2 linked regions of the Homo sapiens genome follow. The protein of the gene in region 1 interacts with the protein of each later gene in a pairwise test. Each region holds a gene or a part of one and is shown on either strand. Other genes may lie near its edges.

Region 1 (15,643 bases):
ATCTTGTGTATTTTTTTTTGTTCCTAATGATTTTATAGACAAAGACTCTTGGCAACCCCAGGAGAAAAAAAATAAAGCTGTCAGTGGAGTACTAGGGATGAGAATGAAACTGGAGGTCTGTTTCTGGTATTATGGCTTCCCGGGACTCTACAGTCCTGTATGGTGAAATACATTTTTCCATTGGGATCGTCAATGCCATGACTGTTCTGCCACCTCAAACTCCAGAGTTTCTGGTGATGTGCAAGAGTTAGCAATATACATTCAGTAAAGCGTGTAATCGAGTAAGTCGTAGTAACTTGGGCGTAAAGCTCTACCACCCTGCTCACTAACACCCTGATCTCCGTCCGGTATGAAAACACCTATTCCGGGTAGTCTGGCTCCACGTTAAGCAAACACCACTTTCCGTGTTCACCGACAGCTAGAGCCAGAGGTCTCCCGGTTGCTGCTTCTGAGGCTGGGTCTGCAGCAGCTGAGGCTCCCGCCTGTCTTGCCGAATGGCCTAAGTCTCTGTCTTGAGACTTTCGAGAGTTCTAATCGTCAAATTTCCCATTTTATTTTGAGATTTTCCCTGCGGCCCACTATTTCGGACAACATAGGAGAGCCTCAAAAACAGTTTCTAGCTTCCAACTCGGCTCAAAGTTCAGACAGCAGCTGGGCTTCCGAGAGCCGCCGGTGTTCCAAGAAAAGCTGCCCGGGACTGGGAGGCGCCCTCTGGACGCCGGAACCTTTGGTTTCCTGCCGTGGAGCGGAACGGTAGCGCCAGGGGCCTTCCGGAAAGAGGAGCGAGAGCCCGGCGATGGCGGCTGCGCCGGCCTTGAAGCACTGGCGCACCACGCTGGAGCGGGTGGAGAAGTTCGTGTCGCCGCTCTACTTTACCGACTGTAACCTCCGCGGCAGGTGTGGCCCCTGGTCCCCCGCAGCCGGCCGACCGCAACCGTGCGCCTCAAGCTTTCCTTCCGGGGAGAAACCTAAGCTGCAGCCACCCGGGCCGCGGGACAAAGTGCCCGCCGCGGGCAGGGCAGGGGCCGGGGAGGAGGGGGTAGGGAATGGACTGTGCCGCGGAGCGGCCAGGCAGCCCTCTTGGCGGAGGATCCAGGGAAAGTGCGGCCCCACCGGCCAGCTGGCCCCCAGGCGGAAACGGGGCGGCCTCCAGCATGTGCCCACCGGCCCGTCCCACGCAGGCTTTTTGGGGCCAGCTGCCCTGTGGCTGTGCTCTCCAGCTTCCTGACGCCGGAGAGACTTCCCTACCAGGAGGCAGTCCAGCGGGACTTCCGCCCCGCGCAGGTCGGCGACAGCTTCGGACCCACGTAGGTAACGCCCAGCGGGTGGGCGGGGCCACAGGCCTAGGGGAAGTCCCAACCCAGCTCCCAGCCACACCTTCGTTGTCTGCCCTCTGCCGTAGACAACTACGTGGGATCGAGCAGCACCCTCTGCTGGGAGCAGCACCCTCTGCTGGGAACAGCTCTCTGGTCCCTGGGTCTTCAGGGGATGGTTTTCATTCCCACGTGGCCGCCTCTGGACATCCCTTAGGAAGGGCACCCTAGGGATCACGAACCTTTGACGCCTCTGCCTGTTTCCCTCATCTTGCTTCTCACCTTGTTGCTCCTTTCTTGTGACTCAAAGCTGAGTACCTTGTGACACTGCAGATGCTTGGAGAGTTTCAAGCCCCTGCCGACACTTTATCCAAGGAAGGATATCAGGATAGGACTTCTACCTCTAGGCCTATCACAACAGCTCTCTTGCAGATGGTGGACCTGCTGGTTCCGGGTGGAGCTGACCATCCCAGAGGCATGGGTGGGCCAGGAAGTTCACCTTTGCTGGGAAAGTGATGGAGAAGGTCTGGTGTGGCGTGATGGAGAACCTGTCCAGGTGAGGAACCCTGTCCTAGGGCCAGGTATGGCCACATTTCAGCCCTGAAATGACTACAGCCCTTCTTCTGTGGACTCTGGAGAAGCCACAGCTGAGTTGCTCTGCCCACAGGGTGGTATCAGGATTTCAGGACTAGGGAAGTTGCCACTTGGGCATCTGTGCAATTGGTCCTTAGTTTTTATTGTGTATAATACAAACTTATAGGAAAACATTTCAAACAGTTCTAGATAAAGTAATGGATCTCTCCTTATCACCCATCCCATTCCCCAGCTATAACCACTGTTAAGTGTCTTATTCATGCTCCACCCTTATCAGGTTTAGTCCTTATACTCCTATCTAGTAGGTCTTTATACCCATTTACAAATTAAGAAACAGATGTGTAGTTGACTCACTCAGGTTCACACAGCTTCTATTTCAAATTGGACTGACTCTCAATCTGGGGTTAAGACTGTTCTTCCTGGCTACAAGAAGGCAGAGACCATCCCTTCCTCCCTTCACTGGCTCAGCAAATATCTCCTGGTGTCCATTCTGGGCCATACCCTTAAGCACTAGGGTGTAGCAGGGAATGAGGCAAACCTGCCCCTGACTTCACGGAGTTTCTTTCCCGGTATTTATTTAGGGGTGCAGAGGCCACCAGAATCCACACTCAGGCTGCCTAACCCCTTCCCAGGGCCCTTCCCATAAGACCATGGGTTTGCCACTGGTAAACAGGGGCTATTTGACGGTCATGGTGCTGGCTGCCATGGGAGTTGGGGCATCTACTGCCAAGGGTCCCTGATTTGCCAATCTTGGCCCTGCTTGGGAGAGAGGACCCAGAGCTGGGAACCAGATGGAGGGGCCTGACTCCCCATGGCTTACACTTTACCTGAACTGTCCAAAAGCCTCAAGCCTTGTCTCTCTCACTCCCCTCCCTACTAGGGTTTAACCAAAGAGGGTGAGAAGACCAGCTATGTCCTGACTGACAGGCTGGGGGAAAGAGACCCCCGAAGGTGAGTCCCTGTGCCCTGGTTGACCAGTGCTGTCAGGGAGGGAGTACCAGTGAGCAAGGAGGAGCTGAGGCCCAGAGTGATCTCATAAGCCCGCCTCTGCTCTAGCACAATCATCCTCACATCTCATTGTTTGCTTTTAAAAGCATGATTTTTTCCTAACCATAAAAATAATGGGCTGGGTGCAGTGACCCACACTACCCTGGGAGGCTGAGTGGGAGGATCACCTGAGCCCAGGAGGATGAGGCTGCAGTGAGCCATGATCACACCGCTGCACTGCAGCCTGGGCAACAGAGTGAGACCTTGTCTCAAAAATAATAGCAATGTTTGCCTGTGGTAAATACAGGAAAGCACAAAGAAGTAAATAACTACCGTTATTCCACTCCCTAGAATAGAGATGAACATTATTAACATCTCAGCATTCATGTTCTTTTTTTTGAGACGAAGTCTCCCTCTGTCGCCGATGCTGGAGTACAGTAGCACGATCGCAGCTCACTGTACCTTCTGCCTCCCAGGTTCAAGCGATTCTCATGCCTCAGCTTCCCGAGTAGCAGGGATTACAGGTGTGTGCCACCACGTCCAGCTATTTTTTTTTTATTTTTGGTAGAGAAAGGGTTTCACCGTGTTGGCCAGGCTACTCTCAAATTCTTGACCTCAGGTTATCCGCCCCTCTCAGCTTCCCAAAATGCTGGAATTACAGGCGTGAGCCACCGCACCTGGCCCAGTATTCATGTTCTTGGTGTATCTTTCCGGCATAGTTTTTTTTGTTTTTTCGGGGGGGTTTTTTTGGATTTTTTTGAGACGGAGTTTCGCTTTTGTTACCCAGGCTGGAGTGCAATGGCACGATCTCGGCTCACTGCGACCGCCGCCTCCCAGGTTCAAGCAATTCTCCTGCCTCAGCCTCCCTACTAGCTGAGATTACAGGTGCCCACCACCATGCCCAGCTAATTTTTTGTATTTTTAGTAGAGACGGGGTTTGACTCTGTTGGCCAGGCTGGTCTCAAACTGCTGACCTCAGGCTATCCACTTGCCTGAGTCTCCCAAAGTGCTGGGATTACAGGAATGAGCCACCGTGCCCGGCTCATCCCGGTATAGTTTTTACTAGTTAAGATTGTATCCTGACTTCTTACATTCCATGTTATAACATGGACATTTTATGACACCATTAAAAACACTTCTTAGACATTATGAATGTATTTTATATAGATTGACACTGTTTCAGATGCTTTCAGACACTGGGAGTATGGTGGTGAATAAAATAGCCCTTGCCAACAAAGGGAGACAGATTCACTCATATAATTACAAAACTGAGGGCTCTGGAAGGAAATCCTGGGTACTCCACTGAGGAATTTGCTCTAGACTTAGCAGCGAAGTGGAGTCAGGAAGGCCTCCCTAAGGAAGTCGTGTTTGCTCTCTGAAGCCTAAGTATGGCATCACCACAGCCCAGCCTGTTCTCCAATGAATGGCCCGCCCATGTTGGCCGTGTTGGTTTTAGATCTTGGGTCTAAAAGTTTGAGCCTGGGAGATCCGAACATGATTTTAATATGCAAAGAGGGTTCCAAGACCAAGGCAGTGCTTTGCAAAGACAACTTTGGAAATATAAGACTAAACAGCAGCGTACTTTACATGGTTCCAAACTTTGCTACTTATTCTCTCTGACAGCAAGACATGGGATCCATCTGGTGTTTGTACCACAACCCTCCCACATGCACTCTTGTCACACTGTGGGATCCTCTGGGTAGTGGATCCTGGAAGCAGACAGGTTGGGCTCAGCTGGATGCCTCCTGGGTGCCCCTTCCCCAAGTCCCCGGAGTACTGTGCCAGTCCCTTAGCCTGAGGCTGTCTCCCCATCTTTGTAGCCTCACTCTCTATGTGGAAGTAGCCTGCAATGGGCTCCTGGGGGCCGGGAAGGGAAGCATGATTGCAGCCCCTGACCCTGAGAAGATGTTCCAGCTGAGCCGGGCTGAGCTAGCTGTGTTCCACCGGGATGTCCACATGCTCCTGGTGGATCTGGAGCTGCTGCTGGGCATAGCCAAGGTACTTGACACCCCCTGTACCCCCTGCTACCCTCTAGAGCCCTGCTCCAAGAAGGTTGTTCTTTGGGTCAGATAAATGGGACTCTGGGAATCCAGAGTAGGACGAGGGTTTCCACCTGCTTGAGGGTTGAGAGAATTTTCCTATGTGAAGGGGAGGAGGGAGACGGTGCTGAGCAGGGGGACCAGCAGGGAAAAAGGGTTGGGGGTCAGGGGAGCTCTGCTGAGAGCCCTGAGATCAGTGGAGCCTAGGTCTGGAAGCTGTGCTTGAAAAAGGGATTAAGGGGCAGAACCCTGCTGCAGGGCCTCGGGAAGGACAACCAGCGCAGCTTCCAGGCCCTGTACACAGCCAATCAGATGGTGAACGTGTGTGACCCTGCCCAGCCCGAGACCTTCCCAGTGGCCCAGGCCCTGGCCTCCAGGTTCTTTGGCCAACATGGGGGTGAAAGCCAACACACCATTCATGCCACAGGGCACTGCCACATTGATACAGGTAGGACAGCAGCTGGTTGGGCTGGCTGGGGAAGCAGGAGTGCCCTTGAAGACCTGGATGTGCCCTAGAAGCACTGTGTGATGCTCAGCAAGTTCTTGCTCCTCTTGGACCTGCGTTTTCCCCGTCTGTAAAACGGGGCCGGGGGGCTGGACTGTGGGCTCTGCTTGCTTTGGATTCACTTTTTTTTTTTTTGAGACGGAGTCTCACTCTTGTCACCCAGGGTGGAGTGCAATGGTGTGATCTCGGCTCACTGCAACCTCTGCCTCCCGGGTTCAGGCGATTCTCTTGCCTCAGCCTCCTTAGTAGCTGGGATTACAGGCACCCACCACAATGCCTGGTTAATTTTTGTATTTTTAGTAGAGACGGGGTTTCACCACGTTGGCCAGGCTGGTCTCAAACTCCTGACCTCAGGTGATCCGCCTGCCTTGGCCTCCCAAAGTGCTGGGATTACAGGCATGACCCACCGTGCCCAGCCTCATTTATTCTTTCAACAAAATCTGATGCCTCATGGGGCCCATGCTAGATATTGAGGGTAGGATTACAGAGACAGATTCAGCAGGCAGAGTTGGTGTCACAATGGTGGGGAGTCTGAGGCACTGGAGAGCACAGGAGAGGTACTTACTCCAGCTGGGTTGGGGGATTCCAGAGAGGCTTCCTGGACAAGTTTGCAGTGTCTGAGTTTTACGGGAAATCCACATTTTTAACAAGCTCCTGAAGGTATTGATTCTGATGCAGCCGAAGTTTTGGGATCACAGAACAAGGGCTTTCTCTGCTGTGCCAAGATGTAGGGTAAGGTGTGAGAGGTTCTGGGCTGGTAAGGGAGGAACTGCAGCCTGGGAGTCAGGAGAGGCTGTAGCACCTCTGGTAGGACAGCTGGCTCCATCCTGGGAGCCATGCCTCTGTTCCCAGGTATACATCAAGTTTGTGCAGGGGCAGGGTAGTCCCTGCTACTTCTCGTAGGATCCTCTAGGGGATGTCTAATTCCCCAAGAGGACTGAGGCTATTCTGGGGCCTGGAGCCTCCATTTCCTGACCTGTATAATTGGCCTCATAGCACTGCCGCCTCCTTTCCCCAGCCCCTCCTCCCACCTCGCTGGAGTGAAGTGAAGTGACCACTTAGGAGGGACACCACAGGGCTTTCCAGGGTGAAGGGCCTGGGATGGGAGGGGGGCTAGGTGACCCTCTGGAGTCCCAGCCCAGGCCTGGTCAGCCTTGCTGCTCCCTCTGTCCTCCACCTCACTCCCCGTATAGCCTGGCTTTGGCCCTTCAAAGAGACTGTGAGGAAATGTGCCCGGAGCTGGGTGACCGCCCTGCAGCTCATGGAGCGGAACCCTGAGTTCATCTTTGCCTGCTCCCAGGTCAGAGGGACAGCTGTGAGGGAGGAGGGAAGCACGTGGCCCTCCCTGGAGCTCCACAGGCCCTGAAGGCTTCCCAGGCCTGGGGTCAGGGCTGCTCCTCACCCTCAGCCACACACTGAGTCCCATATGCTCAGTCCTGGGTGGGGCCCTTGTCACTCTGGTCCCAGCTCCCTTCAACCTGCCCACAGGCGCAGCAGCTGGAATGGGTGAAGAGCCGCTACCCTGGCCTGTACTCCCGCATCCAGGAGTTTGCGTGCCGTGGGCAGTTTGTGCCTGTGGGGGGCACCTGGGTGGAGATGGTAAGTGCACTGGGCACTCCTCAGCCTTGAACTGTATGACAACAGCCTTCCCTCAGGTAGCCCCGCCCTCCCGGCTTTGCTGGTGAGTTTCCACGGGCCACTCATCCCCGCTGTGTGGCAGGGCTGGCTCATTAGTCCCTGGGATCTCAAGGCCTGGGACTTCAAGGGGGAGGAGAGCCTCCAGCGCTGTGACAAGTTGCATGGCCTAGTCCTGGGCACCCCCTCAGGCAGATGGACAGTCAGGCCTGAAGGACAGGGGCCCTTCCTGAGTTCTGGCTGTAACTCCCATGTTTGAGCAGCCCTGGCTTCTCCTGCAGGGATTGGGTTGGCCTGAGCGCCTGCCTGCTCCCCGTCCAGCGCTGACCTGGGCTGCCTCCCACTTCCTTCACTGCCAGGATGGGAACCTGCCCAGTGGAGAGGCCATGGTGAGGCAGTTTTTGCAGGGCCAGAACTTCTTTCTGCAGGAGTTTGGGAAGATGTGCTCTGAGGTAGGCTGAGAGCTGCTACACCAGGCTGTGGGCGAGTGGGGCTGGCGCTCGACTTGGAGTGCTGAGGGGCTGAGGCTGGGGTGAGTCCGCCTGGAGCTCTGGTTCCTGCACTCCAGGATCCTCTTTCTCCACAGTTCTGGCTGCCGGACACCTTTGGCTACTCAGCACAGCTCCCCCAGATCATGCACGGCTGTGGCATCAGGCGCTTTCTCACCCAGAAATTGAGCTGGAATTTGGTGAACTCCTTCCCAGTAAGCAGGCCCCCGGGGGGTCAGGGTCAGAGTGGGCCTCAGTCCCGCCTGGCCCATTTGCCTCTCCCCCTTATTGTGGGGTCCTAGACAGACCACCAAACCCTCACTCTGCCTCTGCCAGGGTCACATAGCAGGCAGGGGCAGGACCAAGTCTGGAAGGCCTGGCTCTGCCTCAGCCCTGACTCTGGCCTCTCTGCCCTGCTTCTGTTTCCCTGCTGGTAGCACCATACATTTTTCTGGGAGGGCCTGGATGGCTCCCGTGTACTGGTCCACTTCCCACCTGGCGACTCCTATGGGATGCAGGGCAGCGTGGAGGAGGTGAGGGGTCACCTAGGGTGGTGGGGTAGGGGCAGGCTGGAGAGGGCTGGCTTGTTCCAGGCTGATCCATGCTGGCCTGCCCTCACCTGTCTAGGTGCTGAAGACCGTGGCCAACAACCGGGACAAGGGGCGGGCCAACCACAGTGCCTTCCTCTTTGGCTTTGGGGATGGGGGTGGTGGCCCCACCCAGACCATGCTGGACCGCCTGAAGCGCCTGAGCAATACGGATGGGCTGCCCAGGTCAGGCCAGGCCTTGGCTCTCCTTTAGCCCCACCCTGGGCCCTTGCCATGAGCCCTGCCTTCCCTCAGACATTGGGCCCAACCCCTCCTCTGGACCTTGTCCTGTCCCAATCCTAGACCACGGGTTCCTCCAAACTTCCACCCTGGGGGTGGGTGGGGGAGAAGCTGAAGCTGGTAAGGGCTCCAGCCCATCAGAGAGAGAGGCTCTCCTAGGGCGTCCAGGGCTGGCCATCTGTGAACGGGGAGCTTTCTGGAGTGGCTCCTCTCTGTAGGAGCTGGATCCTTTGCTTTGGTGTGGAAGAAGGGTGAGCCATGTGGTCTCCAAGGCTGGGAGACCTAGGCTTGTGGTCTCCTCAGGGTGCAGCTATCTTCTCCAAGACAGCTCTTCTCAGCACTGGAGAGTGACTCAGAGCAGCTGTGCACGTGGGTTGGGGAGCTCTTCTTGGAGCTGCACAATGGCACATACACCACCCATGCCCAGGTCAGGGGGAGGTTGCAGGGCTGTGCAGGGAGGGTGTGCCCTTGATCTGCAGAGGGTCAGAGAAGGCAGCAGGGGACAGAGCCCAGGCCAGATCTAGGGGAAGAGAAGTTTGGAGGAGAGAAGTTCAAGACCTGGGTTGGTCAAGAAAGCTTGAAGGAGGCAGAAACCCCTGAAGAAAGAAGGGTTTGGGCTGCGGGGAGAAGAGGGAAGGCATTTAAGGCAGGTCACCCGCCAGAGGCCTTCTCCACGAGGCCCTTGGTGAGTCCTCAGGGATTCTGAGCAAGGGAGGGCTTTGGAAGGTGTCCTGGGACAGCTAAGCAGGCTCCAGACTAATCTTCCCATCCTGGGCTCAGATCAAGAAGGGGAACCGGGAATGTGAGCGGATCCTGCACGACGTGGAGCTGCTCAGTAGCCTGGCCCTGGCCCGCAGTGCCCAGTTCCTATACCCAGCAGCCCAGCTGCAGCACCTCTGGAGGTCAGCCCAGTTCTGTCCCTGCCATCCACCTGACTGCTCACTGCAGTTACCTCTGTGCCTGCCCCTCCCAGCCTTCCCATCCCTGCCCTTGGCCCCTGCAGGCTCCTTCTTCTGAACCAGTTCCATGATGTGGTGACTGGAAGCTGCATCCAGATGGTGGCAGAGGAAGCCATGTGCCATTATGAAGGTTAGGCTCACAATAGTCCTGCCTGCTCTCTCCAACCCCAGGGCTGAGCCCAGAGTGTCCCCTGTGGGATACCCATGGGCACATTCCAGACCTGTTGCCCACCTATGACCAGCCAGTCTTTCCTCAGACATCCGTTCCCATGGCAATACACTGCTCAGCGCTGCAGCCGCAGCCCTGTGTGCTGGGGAGCCAGGTCCTGAGGGCCTCCTCATCGTCAACACACTGCCCTGGAAGCGGATCGAAGTGATGGCCCTGCCCAAACCGGGCGGGGCCCACAGCCTAGGTACGAGCTGAGGGGAAGGGTTGCTACTGCAGCAGGAAGGATGGAGGCCAGACAGATCAGGCCTGGGATACCCCGAGGGATCTGGGTGCCCCTGACTGGAGAGTAGTAGCACATCTTCCACCAACCCATCCCCACCTGCGCAAGCTTCCTGAAAGGTCAGGAAGGCTGCACTGATGCCCAGGCCTCACCCCCAGCCCTGGTGACAGTGCCCAGCATGGGCTATGCTCCTGTTCCTCCCCCCACCTCACTGCAGCCCCTGCTGCCCCAGCAGCCTGTGTTCGTAGTGCAAGAGGTGAGTCCTGCATGCCCTGGGGGGCAGGAACTGTGCTGGGATACTTTCTTACAACTGAGGGTCCTGAGCTCCCCTGTCTGGAGCAAGTGGTGAGGCGGGGCTGGGGTTGGGGTGGGAAGACTTTTGGTGTGGGAAGCCCCTACAGACTCAGCCTCAAGGCCTCCTCCCACAAAGACTGATGGCTCCGTGACTCTGGACAATGGCATCATCCGAGTGAAGCTGGACCCAACTGGTCGCCTGACGTCCTTGGTCCTGGTGGCCTCTGGCAGGTGCCAAATCCTCATTGCCCTTTCCCAGTGCCTGGCAAGTAGACCCCAGGCCATTTCCTCTCTCCCCTTGCCACAACACTGCCCACAGCAGCCCACCAGTGGCTCTGGGCTGGAACCCACACATGGAGCAGGGCAGGCTGGGCAGTAGTCCCCTGTCCACTGGGTCTACTCACTCCACCCTACCCCACCAAGAGCAGCTGGAGACAGCGAGGTCAGTTGGTTGTACAGCACCAATCCCATGTCCTTCCAGGGAGGCCATTGCTGAGGGCGCCGTGGGGAACCAGTTTGTGCTATTTGATGATGTCCCCTTGTACTGGGATGCATGGGACGTCATGGACTACCACCTGGAGACACGGTATAGGCTGGGCAGCATGTGGGGATGGTGGAGGTGGTGGGAACACAGGCTGCTCTGGATCAGTATGTCCACCCCTGTCCCATAGGAAGCCTGTGCTGGGCCAGGCAGGGACCCTGGCAGTGGGCACCGAGGGCGGCCTGCGGGGCAGCGCCTGGTTCTTGCTACAGATCAGCCCCAACAGTCGGCTTAGCCAGGAGGTTGTGCTGGACGTTGGCTGCCCCTATGTCCGCTTCCACACCGAGGTAGTCGGGGGGTAGGGGGTGGCTGTTTTCCCCAAGTGTGCTTGGTAAGGAGGGGCCAGCCCCAGGCCTTGGTGTGTCTCTTCCTTCCCTGACTCCCACCCTCCTTCCCACTCCCAGGTACACTGGCATGAGGCCCACAAGTTCCTGAAGGTGGAGTTCCCTGCTCGCGTGCGGAGTTCCCAGGCCACCTATGAGATCCAGTTTGGGCACCTGCAGCGACCTACCCACTACAATACCTCTTGGGACTGGGCTCGATTTGAGGTCTGACATGGCAGGGTGGGAGTGGCCTTGGACTCCTCCCTGGCTGGGGAGACTGCTTGTGTGGAACAGGCTGGGGAGGAAGAGGATAATCAACATTTGCTGCTTCCTAACGTGTGTGCCAGGCATTGCACTAAATGCTTTACATTGGCAAGGCACAGTGGCTCACGCCTGTAATTCCAGCACTTTGGGAGGCCGAGGTGGGTGGATCACCTGAGGTCAGGAGTTCAAGACCAGCCTGGCCAACATGGTGAAACGCCATCTCTACTAAAAATACAAAAATTGGGCCGGGCGTGGTGACTCACGCCTGTAATCCCAGCAGTTTGGGAGGCTGAGGTGGGTGGATCACGAGGTCAAGAGATCGAGACCATCCTGGCTAACACGATGAAACCCTGTCTCTACTAAAAATACAAAAATTTAGCCGGGTGTGGTGGTGGGCGCCTGTAGTCCCAGCTACTTGGGAGGCTGAGGCAGGAGAATGGCGTGAATCTGGGAGGCAGAGCTTGCAGTGAGCCAAGATCGTGCCACTGCACTCCAGCCTGGGCGACAGAGCGAGACTCTGTCTCAAAAAAAAAAAAAAAAAAAATACAAAAATTGGCCAGGCGCAGTGTTCTCAGGCCTATAATCCCAGCACTTTGGAAGGCCGAGGTGGGCGGATCACGAGGTCAAGAGATCGAGACCATCATAGACAACATGGTGAACCCCCATCTCTACTAAAAATACAGAAAAATTAGCCAGGCGTGGTGGCACATGTCCTGTTATCCCAGCTACTCGGGAGGCTGAGGCAGGAGAATCGCTTGAACCCTTTAGGCGGAGGTTGCAGTGAGCTGAGATTGTGCCACTGCACTCCAGCCTGGCAACAGAGTGAGACTCCATCTCAAAAAAAAAAAAAAAGCCGGGCGTGGTGGCACATGTCCTGTTATCCCAGCTACTTGGGAGGCTGAGGCAGGAGAATCACTTGAATCCTGGAGGGCGGAGGTTGCAGTGAGCCGAGATCAAGCCACTGCACTCCAGCCTGGGTGACAGACTGAGATCCTGTGTGAAAAAAACAAAGTTTTACATTTAATTTGATACTCATGATCATTCGATGGGGTGAGTACTATTATTTATTCCCGTTTCACAGATAAGGAAACTGAGGCTTAGGCAGGTTGGGTGGCATGCCCAGGGCCCCGTACAGTGGGAGCTGGAGTTCAGTTGTGTGGTTCTAGAGCTTGTGCTCGGCCTAGTGACAGGAGCTCTGGAGTCTGGGAGCACAAAGAGGGGCACAGGGCCACCAAGTGGGTCTTGGATCTGCCCTCCAGGTGTGGGCCCATCGCTGGATGGATCTGTCAGAACACGGCTTTGGGCTGGCCCTGCTCAACGACTGCAAGTATGGCGCGTCAGTGCGAGGCAGCATCCTCAGCCTCTCGCTGTAAGTGGGGTACCCACCAGGCCTGGGAGCTGGCATGGAGAAATGGGTCTTCCCGACCACAACTCCAACAGCTTCAGCGTGGCCCCTACGCGCCCTCCTCACCCCAGCTTGCGGGCGCCTAAAGCCCCGGACGCTACTGCTGACACGGGGCGCCACGAGTTCACCTATGCACTGATGCCGCACAAGGGTGAGTGCTGGGGACGGTGGGGCCTTCCTGCAGCCCTAGACACCTCTCTGCCCTTCCCTGAGCCCAAACCCCAGCAACCTGGCTTCCTGCCCCTTCTAGGGACAGGGGAGGGTAGCCCCCATTCTCCACCAGCATTGTTTCCTGGTCGTACCCCAGGCTCTTTCCAGGATGCTGGCGTTATCCAAGCTGCCTACAGCCTAAACTTCCCCCTGTTGGCTCTGCCAGCCCCCAGCCCAGCGCCCGCCACCTCCTGGAGTGCGTTTTCCGTGTCTTCACCCGCGGTCGTATTGGAGACCGTCAAGCAGGCAAGGGGTGGGACGTGCTGGGGACGGGGTTCCGAACTGGGCCTGCCCTCGGCCCCTCCCACCAGACGTGTTCCTCTGCAGGCGGAGAGCAGCCCCCAGCGCCGCTCGCTGGTCCTGAGGCTGTATGAGGCCCACGGCAGCCACGTGGACTGCTGGCTGCACTTGTCGCTGCCGGTTCAGGAGGCCATCCTGTGAGTGGCGGTGTGGGATTGGGGCGGGGGTCGAGTCTCGCCCTCGCAGAGCCTTCATGGCCCCTCCTGTTCTCCAGCTGCGATCTCTTGGAGCGACCAGACCCTGCTGGCCACTTGACCCTTCGGGACAACCGCCTGAAGCTCACCTTTTCTCCCTTCCAAGTGCTGTCCCTGTTGCTCGTGCTTCAGCCTCCGCCACACTGAGTCCCTGGGGCTGGGGTTTTGTTTGTAGAAGGCTCTGGGGACTCCTAATTTCTGCTTCCCCAGCCTAAAGCAGGGATCAGTCTTTTCTTGTGGAATAAATCCTTGGATCGGGAACCCTGCTGCTCAGTCCCCTTAGGGCCCATCCTCACGCTTGGGGTGGGGGTGGGAAGTCTGGGGTGGGATGGCTTCCCAGGTATTTGGTGGGTAGGGGCAAGATCCTAAGGTACCTGTGCGTGCAGGGTCTGGGTTGCAGCCCCCACAGGAGAGACTGGGGACCTCGAGCCACCAAAAGCCAGTGAAGAGACCATGAGTTGAGAAGCCCCTCCCCTGTGCCAGCAGGTAAAGGGCCTGGGCCTGGGGCTGGGGAGGGGCCGAAGGGTGGGTTTTGCCTGGCTCCTGCCAGGATGAGGGGGCAGCCCTGGACCCTGGAGAATCTGGACTGGAGGAGCTCTGGCTCCTGGGCTGCCTGGGGCCAGGGTCTTTGTACCACCTCTGAGGGGCTGTCCTTGCAGAGGCAAACTGTCCTCTGATAGAGTCAGAGCCTTGAGGACTGGGATGGGGGCTCAGTTTGCCTTGTGAGGAGCTGGGCCTTCTGTCACCAGGACCGGACAGCAGGCCCTTCCTACCTGGCCATCTCAGACCAAGAGGTGCCAAGAAGTTCAAATGTATCAGTTTATTAAAAATGCAGCATTTTTCACATGAGCTTTAAAGATGTGGAAGATGGGGTACAATTAAAACCATGAGAGTTGTGCAGGGAACAGCCGTAGGGCCTGTTTGCACCTTCAGATATTGCCTGCTCCCAAAAATTCAGACCCCCAGATGCAGGGCAAGACAATAAGAAAGGGTGAGTGCAAGCAAGGAGAGCCTCCTGCTAAGAGGCTGAGGTCCCCTCTGGTTCCAAGGATGGGATGTCAGCCTTGACCTTCCGGGGTCTGCAGTGGCCTGGGGGAAGAACAGGCAAGATGGTCAGCTAAGACTCCAGGGGCTGCCATGGCAGCCTTTCTCCCACCTTTGTACACGCGCTCCTAGGCCACCATCCCATCCTCTCCTGTAGAGCCAGTTTCTGGGAGTGATGAGGAAAGCCCACCAGAGGCTGCCTGTCGCCCCTTCCTCCTCCCCTTCTTGGGCACTGTGGGAGCTTCTGGGTCCTGCTGGAGGCTGGTCCCCTCAGGCCGCTGGGTTGCAGTCCTCTTAGGAAGGTCTCTCTTTGCCCTTCGTGTCCTGGAAGGGGCCTTGCTTGGAGGCAAAGCGTCCTGGATGGAGGAGACACGGGTCCCTGAGGGGCTCAGAAAGCAGTTCAGAGGTTGGTTAGGGCCCACCACTCCCCCCGCCCTCTTAGGGTAAGGCAGCTGCCTGGGAGGGGCAGCCAGGGCTGCAGAGTGCAGGGGAGGAGGCGGGAGCAGGCAGCCATACCTCCACTCTGTCCTCAGGACTCAGCTGTGTGGCCTTGGATTTCTTTTTGCGGGACTTGCGCCCTGCAGGACACTGGTGTTGGAGTTGGAGGGTCCTATCCTGCCCAGGGGTGACTCCCAGGGTTGCAGGGGGATAGGGTGGAGAAGGGTGCTGTAGCCCTTGCAGGCGTGAAGTCCTTTCTGCTCTCTTAGCCTATTACATTAGGAGTAGCTTACCTTTGGGTGCCAACGGTCCAGGATCCCCCTAAAATGGGATGGGGATAATTCAGGAATCAGCCTGGGTTGGCACAGGGGCGGTATTCCTTGGAGAGGCAGGACTCACACACACCCATCCAGATCAGTGTAGCTTCTCCCTTAGGAAGCCTCTAGGACATCCCCCATGTTAGAGTCCACATCAGCAAAGCTGCTCTGCCCTTGGCTACTTTCACTTGGGCTACCTGCCTTGGGCTACTTCCACTAGCTGCAACCCTGGGACGCATGGGAGGGGAGGGGTGTGACCCTCAGGAACAGTGTGGTCCTTGGAGGGTCTAGACAGACCCTGAGCATCACCACCCCAGTTATTGTGACCCCACGTTTCCACCCATCAGCCTCCTGGGGTCTCTGCCTGTGTGAACAGTAGGGCCCAACCTGGAACCAGATGGTACGGCCATGCCGGTCCTGCAGGGAGCTCATGCCTGGCATGCCATAGCAGCGCAGCCAGGCTCGAAAGGCAGCAAAGTCCTCCTCCCCGCTCTCTGACCCGTAGCCTTTGCCCCCT
Region 2 (15,766 bases), on another chromosome or scaffold:
CCTAGGAAGACAGAGGCTTGTTCCTTTGCTTGCTTAAAATCTTTGATCAAACGGCCAGGCGTGGTGGCTCACACCTGTAATCCCAGCACTTTGGGAGGGCGAGGTGGGCGAATCATGAGATCAGGAGTTCAAGACCAGCCTGGCCAACATAGTAAAACCCCGTCTCACTAAAAATACAAAAAATTAGCCAGCTGGGCGTGGTGGCAGGTGCCTGTAATCCCAGCTACTCTGGAGGCTGAGGCAGGAGAATCACTTGAACCCGGGAGGTGGAGGTTGCAGTGAGTGGAGATTGCACCACTGCACTCTAGCCTGAGTGACAGAGTGAGACTCCATCTCAAAAAAAAGAAAAGAAATCTTTGCTCAAATATCACTTTTTCAGAGAACGCTTCTCTAACCACTCTATTTATTTTATTATTTTATTGTATTTTTTGAGACAGGGTCTCACTCTGTTGCCCAGACTGGAGTGTAATGGCACGGTCATGGCTCACTGCAGCCTTGATCTCCTGGGCTCAAGCGATCCTCTCACTTCAGCCTCCCAAGTGGCTAGGACCACAGGCGTAAGCCACCGTGTCTGGCCAGACCACCATATTTAAAACTGGGGACAAGTCAGGCTCACACCTGTAATCCCAGCACTTTGGGAGGCCAAGGTGGGAGGATCACAAGGTTAGGAGTTCAAGACCAGCCTGGCCAACTTGGTGAAACCCCATCTCTACTAAAAATACAAAAATTAGCCGGGTATAGTGGTGATCGCCTGTAATCCCAGCTATTCGTTAGGCTGAGGCAGGAGAATCGCTTGAACCCGGGAGGCAGAGGTTGCAGTGAGCTGAGATTGTGCCACTGCACTCCAGCCTGGGCAACAGAGCGAGATTCTGTCTCAACAAAAAAAGCTGGGTGCAGTGGCTCACGCCTGTAATCCTAGCACTTTGGGAGTCCGAGGTGGGTAGATCACCTAAGGTCAGGAGTTCAAGACCAGCCTGGTCAACATGGTGAAACCCCGCCTCTACAAAAATACAAAAATTAGCTAGGTATGATGGCAGGTGGCTGTAATCCCAGCTACTCGGAAGGCTGAGGCAGGAGAATCGCTTGAACCCAGGAGGCGGAGGTTACAGTGAGCTGAGATCAAGCCATTGCACTCTAGCCTGGGCGACAGAGTGAGACTCCGTTTAAAAAAAAAACAAAAAACAAAAAACAAAAAACTGGGGACCATTGGCAATAATACTCCTATGTCCCCTCTTCCCTACTTTGTTTTCCTCCATAGGCACCTGGCGCCTTTTTTTTTTTTTTTTTTTTTTTTTTGAGACGGAGTCTCACTCTGTTGCCCAGGCTGGAGTGCAATGGCGCGATCTCAGCTCACTGCAACCTCTGCCTCCCGGGTTTAAGCGATTCGCCTGCGTCAGCCTCCTGAGCAGCTGGGATTACAGGCACGCACCACCAGGCCCTGCTAATTTTTGTATTTTTAGTAGAGATGGGGTTTCACCATGTTGGTCAGGCTGGTCTCCAACTCCTGACCTTGTGATCCGCCTGCCCCAGCCTCCCAAAGTGCTGTGATTACAGGCGTGAGCCACTGCGCCTGGCCACCTAGCACCTTTAATATACTTATTTATTTGTATTGTCTGCCTTCCCCAATTAGATCAACCATGAAGACAAGAGTTTTCATTTGTTGGGTTCTCTGGGCCTAGAGGCATGTCTGGCATATAGTAAGCATTCAGTAAATATCTGTTGAGTGAACGTATGAATAAAGAAGTGAGTTCCTCCCAGCAGGCACTGAGAACATTGGGAGTACAGGGTTGCAGCTCTCTCTGCAGCAGGAGAATGTAGCTGCAATAAAGGGAAGTCAAGAAGCCAGAGTCCAGCCAGGTGCAGTGGCTCATGCCTGTAATCCCAGCACTTTGGGAGGCTGAGGTGGGTGGATCACAAGGTCAAGAGATAGAGACCATCCTGGCCAACATGGCGAAACCCCATCTGTACTAAAAATACAAAAATTAGCTGGGCGTGGTGGTGGGCGCCTGTAGTCCCAGCTACTCAGGAGGCTGAGGTAGGAGAATTGCTTGAACCCAGGAGGCAGTGGTTGCAGTGAGCCGAGATTGCACCATTGCACTCCCGCCTGGGCGACAGAGCAAGACTCCGACTCAAAAAAAAAAAAAAAAGCAGCAGCAGCAGCCAGAGGCCACTCCAGCATCTCCCCTACCTGGCTTGGGTCAGGGAGAGGGCAGTGAGAAGTGAAAACTCCCAGCTACAGAAAAGGAAATATGTTGGGGGGAAGGGAGAAGGAAAGGTGTCTTCATCAATGCCGGGGCAGGGTAGATGGAGCCCTGGGCAGGGAGTTTGGACCAGGAAATCTCAATGAGGGAAATGTGCTGTCCTCACCTCTCCAAGAAGCGACTGGCCAAACAGAGTGACAGAGGGGATAAAGGTTATGCCTAGGGAGGCATGTGTCAGAGGCTATCATCCACTCTGTTGAACCCACAGTGACCAGCACCACCATCACACAAACATGCCTGCATGTGTGCACGCACGTGCAGTGTGCAAACCTGATGTCAGCCTCACTCCCTGGCTCTTCTGTCCACAAACGCTGTTTCTTTAAGTACCACTTTCAGTTCCTCCAAAGAATCTACTTAAACTCTTAAATTCCTGATCTCTATAGATTTTACTAAAGATTTCAAAGGAGATAAGATGAGAGGGTTACGTTGCACATTCTAAAGCAAACAAATTAAAATGTTTTGTTAGACATTTCCATATTTTTAAGGGCCTCCTTGGAGCTGCCAGGCTGGGAGTGAGGTTTCTCTCCCTTTCTAAACCCTGTGCCCATCTTGTCACCCTCCTGGAGCTGCCAGCAGACTTCAGATTCTTCTCCGATCTACAGAGCAGAAAAATTCAGCCAGCCCTTCCTTGTCTTCCTATCCACAGCTGCCTGCCCAGACTCATGAAACCTGACAAAATGCAAGGTCTTATCATTACCTGAACCTTGGACCTGTTCAAAAATACTAGTTCCTGAGAATAAATATCCCTGGTGTCTTCCTGCCCTTCCTGCACACCTCCAGTGGCTTATCAAAATATTTGTTTCATGCGCACACTGGGCTCTCATTTAAGAGGAATTTGGGAGAATGTTATTTTCTAATCTGCATTTCACACCAGGCTCCCCCTCCTTCCTGGGGTGCTAGTGTCAGCAGAACCTGATGGGGAAGTGAGGTCTGGGAGGCAGAGGAGGAAGGAATGAGGGGAAAGGGGAAGTTTGGGAGGAAGGCTTCTGAGAAGACTGGTGGGAGAGAAGGAGAGCCTGCAGACAGAGGCCTCCAGCTTGGTCTGTCTCCCCACCTCTACCAGCATCTGCTGAGCTATGAGCCAAACCAGGGATTTACAGGGTAGGGAGGGTGGGATAGGCAGCGGCATTAGATCGGAGGAATGAGATGGACAGACCTGGGCTGTGGGCTAGGAGGGCAGTCAGCTGGCCTAGGGTAGCCCGGGCTGGTGTCAGGGTAAGGAGAGGAAGGGAGGGATGAGGGCTGATTAATTTTTTTCACCCCACAGGAGGAAAAGCTTTCGGACTGCTGAAGGCCCAGCAGGAAGAGAGGCTGGATGAGATCAACAAGGTAGAAGGAAGAACTAAGGGGGCAGAGCCAGGGGGATGGGGCGTGGATGGGGAGGGCCTACCCTGGCTCTTATTTTCCCCTCCATAGCAATTCCTAGACGATCCCAAATATAGCAGTGATGAGGATCTGCCCTCCAAACTGGAAGGCTTCAAAGGTGAGGGGGAAACTGTAGGCGGTGGAGACAGGGCTGGGGGTAGGAGGGTTAGGATTTCCACAAGAACAAGGCAGGAACAGCAGAGATAAAAAGTTTACTTTTGTGGTAGCAAAAGGGGAACCTGCCTTTATTGCCCTCCTGCCACACTGCGGTCCCTTTCCCGGGCCTGCCTCTCTCAGCATCCCCTCTAGCTCCTTACACCCTAGCGGGGCCCCTCAACTCCCCAACCCCACTTCCTCTGCCTGCCCCTCCTCCTCCTTCCACGTTGTCTCCTCCACCTAGCAGTTGGTTGGCAACCCCTTCCTCAGTCCCCTGCTGAAAACCCTCCAGTCAGCGCTTATCCCTTCTGCTCTCTCCCCTCACCCAGAGAAATACATGGAGTTTGACCTTAATGGAAATGGCGATATTGGTGAGAAACGGGTGATTTGCGGGGGCAGGGTGGTGTGCAGGCCTAAGAAGACAGAGGTCTCTCCTACATGCTCCATTCCTCATGATTTGGGAGGGGGCCCACCTACCACAGTGGGAGGAAGGAGAATGGGGATGCGGAAGTGGGAGAGGAGAGAGAGGGTCTCCCCACCTTCTCCCCATCCCCATCCTCTGCCCCCAGATATCATGTCCCTGAAACGAATGCTGGAGAAACTTGGAGTCCCCAAGACTCACCTAGAGCTAAAGAAATTAATTGGAGAGGTGTCCAGTGGCTCCGGGGAGACGTTCAGCTACCCTGACTTTCTCAGGATGATGCTGGGCAAGAGATCTGCCATCCTAAAAATGTGAGTGTCAATTTCCAACCTCCCCTGTACTTACCTGTTTTCTCCTCCCCCATCCCTACCCTTGTCCACAGGCTCAACATTTCTACACGTTGCCCATCATCCCTTCTTCCATCCTTAGAGGGACCCTTCCAAGGTCCCGACCCCATCCCTATCCATAGTCCTGGTCCCCAGAAACTCCAACCCCTGCCCTTCCTCTTCCCCCTTCCACCCTCACATCCCCATCCCCTTCTAGCCTTTCCTAGCACCCTATGATTTATTCCCTTGAGAGGAGTGTTCCCTGATCCCTGTGCCTCTTCCCATCTCAACCAGGATCCTGATGTATGAGGAAAAAGCGAGAGAAAAGGAAAAGCCAACAGGCCCCCCAGCCAAGAAAGCTATCTCTGAGTTGCCCTGATTTGAAGGGAAAAGGGATGATGGGATTGAAGGGGCTTCTAATGACCCAGATATGGAAACAGAAGACAAAATTGTAAGCCAGAGTCAACAAATTAAATAAATTACCCCCTCCTCCAGATCAAGTCAGCTTAGTTTTTATTTGGGTGATTTTTTTCCTGGGTTTGGGAAGGAGAGACAGGTCTTGAGGGAAAGGTGGCAAGGATTTGGCCATATGAACAATCCATCAACAACGCTATAGTGTGTCCACTACAGCAGATGGTTTCACGCACCAAGGGGGATTCCAGCTGTGTAAGACAGCCTTAACCTCAAAGAATGCAGGCAGGTCAAAAACACATGTCCAAACAAGGTACTCAGGCCCATGACAGATTTCATGAAGAGCAAGGAATACCATGAACCAACATTCTCCACCACTATAAGCTTTGTCACTTTGACAAATCACTCAGCCTCTGTGAGGCTTTTTTCTAAAAATGGGGATAAAGTGACCTATGCTATTGTGCCTGACATATCATAAGCCCTCAATAATGTTTAAAACTTGAATGAGCCGGGGCCGATGGCTTATGCCTGTAATCCCAGCACTTTGGGAGGATGGGGTGGGCAGATCACCTGAGGTCAGGAGTTCGAGACCAGCCTGACGAACATGAAGAAACCCCGTCTCTACTAAAAATACAAAATTAGCCTGGTGTGGTGGCGCATGCCTGTAATCCCAGCTACTTGGGAAGCTGAGGCAGGAGAATCTCTTGAACCCAGGAGGTGGAGGTTGTGGTGATCCGAGATCGCATCATTGCACTCCAGCCTGGGCAACTAAAAAGCGAACTCCGTCTCAAAAAAAAAAAACCGAACATACAAACAAACAAAAAACACTTGAATGGGTAGATGAATGAAAGAACTGGTGCTATTAAATAAAGCAAAGAATTTACAGCTGGGCGTGGTGGCTCACGCCTGTAATCCCAGCACTTCAGGAGGCCGAAGCGGGCAGATTACCTGAAATCAGGAGTTGGAGACCAGCCTGGCCAACATGGTGAAACCCCATCTCTACTAAAATACAAAAAATTAGCTGGGCATGGTGGCAGGTGCCTGTAATCCCAGCTACTCGGGAGACTGAGGCAGGAGAATCGCTTGAACCCGGGAGGTGGAGGTTGCGGTGAGCCGAGATCACGCCATGGCACTCCAGCCTGGGTGACAAGAGTGAGACTCTGTCTCAAAAAAAAAAAAAAAAAAAAAAAAAGACTGGAAGGAGAAACTCATTGGAGACAATGACTATGGACATCCCTTTTAAGAATTTTGCTGCAAAGGGTAACAAAACGGTATGTGTGGTAGCCGGCCGGGGAGAAGGGAGAAGAGAATCATTTTGGAAGTTTGAAAACAGAAGTCATCTTAAATCTTACTGAGCCTCTGACTAAAATTCTCATCTGATTTCCGCAAACTTTTCTGCCTTCACTTTTCATAATGAATAAGCCGCCTCCTTTATTTAGCCATATCAGCCTAGGCACAGGCCCCCAAACTCATGCCTCCACTAATCTGTTCTCTGCACCTGAGATGTACACCTTCTTCTGAAACTTGGGTAAGTTCTAACTCGTTCTTCATATCTATTTATTTATATATTTTTGACAGATATCTACTCCGATCATTCTTCATATCATTTTTTTTTTTTTTTCCTGAGATGGAGTCTCATGTTGGCCAGGCTGGTCTCCAACTCCTGACCTCAGGTGACCCACCCACCTTGGCCTCTCAAAGTGCTGGGATTACAGGCGTGAGCCACTGCTCCCGCTCCCGGCCCTTTTTTTCTTCTTTTTCTTTTTTTTTTTTTTTTGAGACGTAGTCTCACTCTGTCGCTAGGCTGGAGTGCAGTGGCGTGATCTCAGCTCACTGCAACCTCCGTCTCCCAGGTTCAAGCGATTCTCCTGCCTCAGCCTCCCAAGTAGCTGAGACTACAGGCACGCGCCACCAGTCCAGCTAATTTTTGTATTTTTAGTAGAGACGGGGTTTTGCCATGTTGGCCAGGATGGTCTCCATTTCTTGACCTTGTGATCTGCCCGCCTCAGCCTCCCAAAGTGCCAGGACTACAGGCATAAGCCACCACGCCCGGCCTCATATCTCTTAATAAGAGTTTTTCTAGAAACATTTCTCAATCACCCCAGGCATAATCATATTTTATTTCTCTACTTCTTTCTTTTTTTTTTTTTTTTGAGATAGAGTTTCGCTCTTGTTGCCCAGGCTGGAGTGCAATGGCACGATCTTGGCTCACCACAACCTCCGCCTCCCAGGTTCAAGCGATTCTCCCGACTCAGCCTCCCGAGTAGCTGGGATCATAGGCATGCGCCACCACGCCTGGGTAATTGTATTTTTAGTAGAGACGGGGTTTCTCCATGTTGGTCAGGCTGGTCTCGAACTCGTGACCTCAGGTGATCCGCCCGCCTGAGCCTCCCAAAGTGCTGGGATTACAGGCGTGAGCCACCGCGCCCATCCTTCTTTTTTTTTTTTTTTTTTTTTTTTTTTTGAGACGTAGTCTTGCTCTGTCACCCAGGCTGGAGTGCAACCTCCGCCTCCCTGGTTCAAGGAATTCTCTGCCTCAGCTTCCCGAGTAGTTGGGATTACAGGCGCCCGCCACCACGTAGGGCAAATTTTTGTATTTTTAGTAGAAATGGGGTTTCATCATGTTGGCCAGGCTGGTCTTGAACTCCTGATCTCGTGATCCACCTGCCTAGGCCTCCCAAAGTGCTGGGATTACAGGCGTGAGCCACCGCGCCAGGCCTTATTTCTCTACTTCTATAATATCCTGTGCATTATCTCCAGCGCCTTCAAATCATAGTCATTGAATGATCTGTTGAATGGGTATAACTCTGATGGGAGCAGAGAGTTCTAGAATCGGGTAGTAAGAGACAAAGGAGGGTAACAGTACTGCATTTCACAAAATGAAACCCATTGTTAAGAAATTACAAATTCCCAATAATTTCAAATATAAAAATTTATTCATGAAAATTATAGGTTATAAAATTAAATGTCCGTCTTAGTCGATGGTTGCCCATATTTTGATGAACGAGTCATTCCTAGCCTATCTTTGTTCAAATGATTTGCATACATTATGCAAATAGGTAGAACTGCCCGAAGAATGCCTACGCTGCGTGGTGCGGACGAAACGCTTCCCGGGGCCTTTGGATTGGTCTGTCTAGCCACCTCATTTGCATGACGTAATATAATAACTGGAAGGCCCCGCCCCTCTGGTGCATTTCCCCGCTCCAACCACCTCCTCAAACTCACGGCAAAGGGATGCGAGAGCTGGAACTCTTACCAGGCCTGCGGAAACTCAGCCCTCCGGCAGCTAATCCCGCCCGCCAGCCCCCGTCCTCTCTCTCTTTCTCCCTAGCTGAAGGCGCCACGGGCCGTGTGTCGTTGCCTTCCACTTTTGGCGTCCCAACGTCTCTCCGCTCCCATCTTTCTACTAACGTCCGACGCACGCTCCGCCTCTTTCTCCCACATTCGTCGTGTAAATTCTGCGTCCCAACCGCCCAGCCGACCTGCACCGCATTCCCGCCCCCTCAACACGGCTCAACGGCCGACGCTGGGGGCCCGCCTCCTTAGCCAATCGGGGTCCTAGTGCCCTTAAGTCCCTCCTCTTTATGCAAATAACCTCCGCATGCTCCGCGCGCCCGGCCCTTTTTTTTTTTTTTTTAAACTAAAGACAGCCCTGGAAGTAGAGGGTTAGGGTAGAAAGTGCCCCGCCCTTTATGCAAATTAAGGGGCGTGTCTAGGCGCGGAGGGAGGTGGGAGGTGGGAGGGGGTGCTCCCGGGGGCGGCGGTTGCCCGGATGGGCCGTTAGTCGGGGCTCAGCCGCGGAGTGAGCGAGGGAGACGGGAGGAGCCGAACCCGGCGCCATCCGCCGCCATCCTCCCCCGCCCCACCGCCATCCCGTCCCGGGGAGCCCCTAGGCCCGGGTCCCGGATCCCCGCGCACCCGGCCAGGTGAGTCTGGGTGAACCGTGCGCTGACGCCCTTTTCCGGCGCGGGAGAGGTGGTGGCGGTGGCGGTGGCGGCGGCGGCGGCGGTGGTGGGCCGGGGGGAGGAGAAGCTGCCATTAGCCGCCGCCATTTTGTCCTCCTGCTGCCGGGCCTGCTTGCCCCTCCCCCTCCGGTACCTCTACTCCGGGACCCGCACCTCCGGCAGTTCATTCAGGATCCGTAGTCTGCCCCTAACCACCCACCGTCTTGGCTTCAGGGGGTGACCCCTGCGCCTGGGTCCGTAACTCCCTACCCTCCGCTGCGCTCCTGGCTTTTCACCCCCATTTGTGGGCCCCCTCCCCGGCTGCCGCCCCGTGGTGGTGGGCCGCGCCCGACGGTTCTCTCGGAAGGGCGCTTTTCCTCCATATTGGACCCCCTCCTATCATCCAGCGCTGTGTTCCCCCCTCTGGACGCCCCTCTTCGTGTCGAGCCACTCCCACTCTAGAATCCTGCTTTTATCCCAGCATCTTTGCTTTCTATGTTGCTCAGTCGCCCTATGTCTGCTTTTTCATTTTTCCTGTTCCTCGTCTCCTTTCTCCCCCAACCCCGTTTTTCTTCTTGGGCCTCTGCCCCCTTACTTCGTTGTCTACATCCTTTTTTTTTTTGCCATTCCTGTTTCCATATATTTTCCACCTGCTTTCGTATTCATTATTTTCTGTTAGTTTTGGTCTATTCGCTACATGACTCTTGTATTCGTTTTCCCTTCATATATTTATCTTCACAGATTGGCCTCCTCAAACACCTACGAAGCAACATCCATCTTATCTCTAGCTTGTCATAAAGTTCTTTCTCCCCAATTTTAGCTTTCATTCTGGGCCTGTCTGGATTTCCCTGCTTTCTTCCCCACTATTTCTCATCTCTTTACACTGTTCCCGTCCATAAACGAATGCCTGGTCACTCTGGAATGGACTGAGAGACCTGTCGTCCGGCTTGCTTAGGGAGCTGGAGGTATCGAGTAAAGAAACACTGGTGATGGACATTTTTAATGAGGATAGGAAAACGAAGATGGCTCTGGCCTTGGCCCTCTGTTTTCTGGCCCATGGTTACAGGGTGCTAAGGTGGCTCCATAATGCTTTTTCTCAGTTCTTCATATGGTAAAACAGTATTTCATCTGGAGGCGATTTTTTCCAGGAGCCAATACAGGAGCAAGTTTAGGAAAAGATGGGATATTTCAAATACTTGAGGTTCCTATAGCCTGGGAGTATGTACAGCCCTAGTTGTTCTATGAGGATTTCTCTGGTACCAACCCCCATTCCGGCTGAGCAAGCTCATAAAATCCTTAAACTCCCAGCATACCTTCCTGCAAACCTTCCCAGATGGACACGAGGCTGCTGGGCTGGGAGCCTGGGGTACAGGGCCCTGGGGGCATGATTAGGGAGCTTGTGTCCAATAAACAGGGAATCTAAAGTGTTGTTTCTTCTTCTCTGATGGAATTGTATGCTTCTTTTTTAGTTTTCTCTTGCTTGAATTTGTCCTGTTGTAAGTCTCTGAAACGATTTTGGTGGAGAGAGAAGAGATTATTACTTGTAGGGAATTACTCTTTGTAGACAGGCACAAAGGGCAGAGTGTTTATACTAGGAGGATGCTGGATTTTTACTTAGATTTCCTTGACAAAGGTGTCTGGGGGAAAGGAGGGAACATGGCATTTGAGCTATGAGGGAGCTAAGTAGATCATGGTTGCTTGAGAAGAGTGGGCAGTTTACATAGACTGGAGGAAAAGACACCAGAGGGCCTCATATCTGAGTCCCTAATGATAATGCAATGGAGTTTTTAAGTTTCTGTTATGGTCTGTACAGGGGACAGAGACTGAGACACTTGCTGTCTGGCCCACAGGCTCTGGCACGTTTTGGGGGAGGTGCCTGCAGGACCCAACATACTCAATGAGCTTCCAGCGCAATGTCCGATCGCTCGGGGCCGACTGCCAAGGGAAAGGATGGAAAGAAGTATTCCTCGCTCAACCTGTTTGATACGTATAAGGGCAAGTCCTTAGAGATCCAGAAACCCGCTGGTGAGAGTCCTGCAAAGATGCTTCTGATGGTTGAAAGCTAGGCATGCATGGGGCATACGTTTTAGAGCTCTTTAAAGGGAAGTGGCTGTAGTAGAAATACCAAAAGACTAGAGGAGATTTCCCAACTTTACACTGGGTCCTTTAAAGGGGGTGTGGGCTCTGGGTGAACACCAGTTATCCTCCTACAAAGGCGTGTCTGTGGTTCCCTGTCTTTGGACACGTAAGAATTGGAGGAAAATAAATGTGGATTTGGGAAACTTTGAGGCCAGCTTGCTTCTTGCAGGCTCATGATCAACCAATCTCACATAAAAGTATTGAATGTTACATATCTCAGCCTTCTTGATAGGGATTTCATAGATTTTTTTTTTTTTTTTTTTTTTTTTGAGACCAAGTTTAGCTCCTGTTGCCCAGGCTGGAGTGCAATGGTGTGATCTTGACTTACCACAACCTCCACCTCCTGGGTTTAAGCGATTATCCTGCCTCAGCCTCCTGAGTAGCTGGGATTACAGGCATGCGCCACCACACCCGGCTAATTTTGTGTTTTTAGTAGAGACAGGGTTTCTCCATTTTGGTCAAGCTGGTCTTGAACTCCTGACCTCAGGTGATCCGCCTGCCTCGGCCTGCCAAAGTGCTGGGATTGCAAAGTGTGAGCCACCACAATCAGCGCGATTTCAGAGATTATTAAGGGCAGGGGAAGGAATCCCTTCTAAGAGAAGTTTGGAGGAAGTAGGTAATAAAATATTCAACATGTATAAATGTGTCCCAGGATAGGAGGCCATCAGATCTCCCACATGAGGCATTTTCGACCCTCTCTCCGTCTTGTTCTCCAGTTGCCCCTCGCCATGGCCTGCAGAGTCTCGGGAAAGTTGCCATTGCCCGGCGTATGCCACCTCCAGCCAACCTTCCAAGCCTGAAAGCCGAGAACAAAGGCAATGACCCCAATGTCTCACTAGTGCCAAAAGACGGAACAGGATGGGCAAGCAAACAGGAGCAGTCCGACCCCAAGAGGTAGACAGAGGCTTGGGGGACCTAGAGTGATGGGTATTTTAACTTGAACTTCAGGGAGCATTGGGGCTTGGTTTAGTCCAGCCACGTCTGAGCCAGAGACGAAGAGGTCCCTTTCTTACCTATTGCAGGTTCCTTGTTAAATGACTAAGGAATGGTACTAAACTTTAGCTTTTTGTCTTGGAGAGAGAGCATGAAAAAATAGACAACAGCCTACAAAGGATGACAAAATTAATTTGTCCTTATATTTGTAAATGGTAGCAATGGGCATGATTTCAGTCCTGAGTCTCCACCAGTTGGAGAAGTCAGGGAGGCATCTCAGGTGTGAATAACCTTCCCATTCTGTCCCCTCAGTTCCGATGCCTCAACCGCTCAGCCGCCGGAATCGCAGCCACTGCCGGCTTCACAGACGCCTGCCTCCAACCAGCCGAAACGACCCCCAGCAGCCCCCGAGGTACCTGGAGAACTGGAGGGGTGGGGAGGAAGAATGGTTCATAGCTGCCCCACCCACATCATTTATCATCTTTCTGAACACTTCCCCAGAACACTCCTTTGGTTCCAAGCGGGGTAAAGTCCTGGGCACAAGCCAGCGTCACCCATGGAGCACATGGAGATGGTGAGTGCAGCACTTAATTGGGGAGCTGTGTCTGGGCACCATGGGATGCATGAACCCTGCACTGTATTTTCAGCCAAGTGACCTTGGTCCTCTTTGGCTAAATCAAGGACCACCCATATTCAGTTTCATGGAGGCACATGAGCAAGTTTAAGTCTCAGTCTTATATGATGGAGTGTAGTGGTGCCAGAACTGACCTCCTTGGGGAATAAGCAGTTATTCTGTAGGGGGGTGAGTTTGAAGGCGGGAAACCTGATGGTCTGGTACCTGTCAGAGCCTTCCACTTTTTTTTTTTTTGAGACGGAGTCTCATTCTGTCACCCAGGCTGGAGTGCAGTGGCGCAATCTCGGCTCACTGCAACCTCTGCCTCCTGGGTTCAAGCGATTTTCCTGCCTCAGCCTCCAGAGTAGCGGGACTACAGGCACACGCCAACACACCCAGCTAATTTTTTGTGTGTTTTTAGTAGAGATGGGGTTTCACATGTTGGCCAGGATGGTCTCGATCTCTTGACCTCGTGATCCGCCCGCCTCAGCCTCCCAGAGTGCTGGGATTACAGGCGTGAGCCACCGCGCCCAGCCAGAGTCTTCCACTTTTATAGCATGTCCTCAGGAAATGTCTTCTGTCTCCTGTTCTGCATCCCCATCCTAATAGGTGGAAGGGCATCAAGCCTACTGTCACGATTCTCTCGAGAGGAATTTCCGACCCTGCAGGCGGCTGGCGACCAGGACAAGGCTGCCAAGGAAAGGGAGTCTGCCGAACAGTCGTCTGGGCCCGGACCAAGCCTCCGCCCCCAAAGTGAGTGGCTGCCTTTTGGCCAAGACATTACCTATTGCATCTCAGAGCTAGGTGCTGGCTTATTCACCTTCCTCCCCATCACTTTCAGCTGTGTTCACTTGTCCTCCAATCATTGATACCTCTCTCTACCTTTTCCAAAATACAGATTCTACAACTTGGAGGGACGGAGGTGGGCGTGGCCCTGATGAGCTGGAGGGCCCGGACTCCAAACTTCATCATGGTCATGATCCCCGGGGTGGGCTACAGCCTTCAGGCCCACCCCAGTTCCCTCCCTACCGCGGAATGATGCCGCCTTTCGTGAGTCTTGGTGTCTTGTCTTGGAACGATTACACTGGAAGCTGGAGAGCTAGGAATCAGGACTTAGTCTTTGACCTATGAGATAGAAGGGAGGGTGGGAGGATGATTGATAGCAGGCTTAAGGAGCTAGAAGGGTATATGACTGTCCCTCTGAGCAGCTACTGTTGGACCCTTTTACAGATGTATCCCCCATATCTCCCGTTCCCTCCGCCCTATGGACCCCAGGGGCCTTACCGATACCCCACTCCTGATGGGCCCAGGTGAGCAATCCAGGTCTGGGTTTGTGGCTGGGGGCAGGGGAAGCTTATTGGGGGAGGAGATGGTTTTCTAGCCAGGAGGCTCAGTCTAGGATCAGTCTCGCATGTGGTTATACAACATGCCATATTTCATTTTCTTTTTTGTGTACAGCCGTTTTCCCCGTGTGGCGGGCCCCCGAGGCTCAGGGCCACCAATGCGCTTAGTAGAGCCTGTGGGTCGTCCCTCTATTCTCAAAGAGGATAATCTCAAAGAGTTTGATCAGTTGGATCAGGAGAATGATGATGGTTGGGCAGGTAAGTGGATATTAAGGGTCAAGAATTTGGATCTTGAAAGGCAAAACCTAATGAGGAAAAAAAAATACAGGGTTATGTGGGTGAAAGGCAGACATTGAAGTGTAGGAAGACCAGGCCCAATGGCTCACATCTGTAATCCCAGTGCTTTGGGAGTGTTAGGTGAGAGGATCGCTTGAAGCCAGGAGTTCAAGACCAGCCTGGGCAACACAGCAAGACCCCCCACCTCTACAAAAAAAAAAAAATTTTTTAGTTGGGTGTGGACTGTGCATCTGTGGTCCCAGCTACTCTGGAGGTTGTGGTGGGAGGATCAGTTGAGCCCAGGAGTTGGAGGTCACAGTGAGCTATGATCGTGCCACTGAACTCCATCCTGGGCAACAGAGCGAGACTTTTAAAAGGAAAAAAAAAAAAGAGTAGGGGAGGATGGATGGGGAATACCAAGTCCTTGCAAAGTGGTGAGAGGAGTAAGAATGACAAGACTTCATTGGTGGATCTAGACTTCGGAGGGAAGGATATTGGCATTGGTAGTCCATCTTGTTACATAGTTCCAGACTACCTCCCAAGATTGGAGGGCAGAATGCTTGGGTTACTAATACTCATATTTCCCCTCAGGGGCCCATGAAGAGGTTGACTACACTGAAAAGCTCAAGTTCAGCGATGAGGAAGATGGGCGAGACTCTGATGAGGAGGGTGCTGAGGGCCAGTGAGTTAGGGCCATCAGGGGAGAAGAGGAGGGGGTCTTGGTTTGTATTTTGGTAATATACTCTTAGAGGAGTATATTAGTTGCAGCTGATTTTAATTTCACTGTTGATCTGCTCACAGCAGGGATTCCCAATCAGCTTCTGGTGAGGAACGGCCCCCTGAAGCAGATGGCAAAAAGGGCAACTCCCCCAACAGCGAACCGCCCACTCCTAAGACGGCCTGGGCAGAAACCTCTCGGCCTCCAGAGACAGAGCCGGGACCTCCTGCCCCAAAGCCTCCCCTACCCCCACCTCACCGGGGCCCCGCCGGGAACTGGGGCCCCCCTGGGGACTACCCAGTGAGTGTCTCCAATAAGGGATTGAGAGGGTCAGCTGTGGGAAATTGGTGTCAGCTGAGTAATTGAAGCGGTTGTGATATAGAGGAAGGGGGGTGCTAAAAATGGGCTGTGTGAAGTGCCAGGCTGCAGAACATCCTGGGAAGCTTTTAAATATCTTTGGTAATAGGGGAGTCTGGGTAAGAAGTGAGAAACTGGGATGCTAATGAGGAAAGAAGAAAAAGGAGCCCTGGGTGTTTGGGTTTCGGAAGGAGAGAGGGAACAGAAAAATAAAAAGACTAGGGTGGCTAGATAGCTGGATCTGTTAGTATGCATCAGTAGTCCAAGCTACTCAGCAGGCTGAAGCAGAAGGATCACTTGAGCCCAAGTTCAAGACCAGCCTGGGCAACATAGCAAGACGTGGTCTCAAAGAAGACCAGGATAATGAGTTTGTCACCACCCAGAGAGATCAACCCCAAAGCCTGGGTCGTTGCATCCTGCAAGTAGCGACAGTTGATTTGTTGTAAAAGAGATGATAGAAAGCATAGTAACTGATTCCCCTGGCCCTGCTGGGTCTTGCCAAT

What was found.
Region 2: the proteins of MAN2C1 (region 1) and PRRC2A interact in a two-hybrid assay, tested with the Homo sapiens proteins (one study listed by BioGRID and IntAct).

Annotation. Positions count from the first base shown.
Region 1 is NC_000015.10:75,353,737-75,369,379, reverse strand, and holds MAN2C1 (alpha-mannosidase 2C1), read left to right. Parts: upstream 1-772; 5' UTR 773-796; coding exon 797-897; intron 898-1,181; coding exon 1,182-1,307; intron 1,308-1,745; coding exon 1,746-1,869; intron 1,870-2,787; coding exon 2,788-2,858; intron 2,859-4,714; coding exon 4,715-4,892; intron 4,893-5,191; coding exon 5,192-5,381; intron 5,382-6,631; coding exon 6,632-6,738; intron 6,739-6,926; coding exon 6,927-7,037; intron 7,038-7,432; coding exon 7,433-7,525; intron 7,526-7,659; coding exon 7,660-7,776; intron 7,777-7,998; coding exon 7,999-8,094; intron 8,095-8,188; coding exon 8,189-8,334; intron 8,335-8,691; coding exon 8,692-8,815; intron 8,816-9,168; coding exon 9,169-9,290; intron 9,291-9,391; coding exon 9,392-9,477; intron 9,478-9,604; coding exon 9,605-9,760; intron 9,761-9,941; coding exon of another isoform or gene 9,942-9,954; coding exon 9,955-10,052; intron 10,053-10,188; coding exon of another isoform or gene 10,189-10,226; coding exon 10,227-10,321; intron 10,322-10,571; and 18 more. Other genes in the region: NEIL1 (endonuclease 8-like 1), read right to left, coding at 14,346-14,416, 14,562-14,727, 14,888-14,949, 15,103-15,130, 15,514-15,641. UniProt on the Homo sapiens protein: Cleaves alpha 1,2-, alpha 1,3-, and alpha 1,6-linked mannose residues on cytoplasmic free oligosaccharides generated by N-glycoprotein degradation pathways.
Region 2 is NC_000006.12:31,611,993-31,627,758, forward strand, and holds the start of PRRC2A (protein PRRC2A), read left to right. Parts: upstream 1-8,722; 5' UTR 8,723-8,866; intron 8,867-10,697; 5' UTR 10,698-10,797; coding exon 10,798-10,909; intron 10,910-11,086; exon of another isoform or gene 11,087-11,218; intron 11,219-11,739; coding exon 11,740-11,917; intron 11,918-12,268; coding exon 12,269-12,368; intron 12,369-12,457; coding exon 12,458-12,530; intron 12,531-13,178; coding exon 13,179-13,322; intron 13,323-13,467; coding exon 13,468-13,619; intron 13,620-13,799; coding exon 13,800-13,879; intron 13,880-14,027; coding exon 14,028-14,170; intron 14,171-14,779; coding exon 14,780-14,870; intron 14,871-14,989; coding exon 14,990-15,206; intron 15,207-15,766. Other genes in the region: AIF1 (allograft inflammatory factor 1), read left to right, coding at 3,338-3,362, 3,529-3,590, 3,678-3,744, 4,112-4,518. UniProt on the Homo sapiens protein: May play a role in the regulation of pre-mRNA splicing.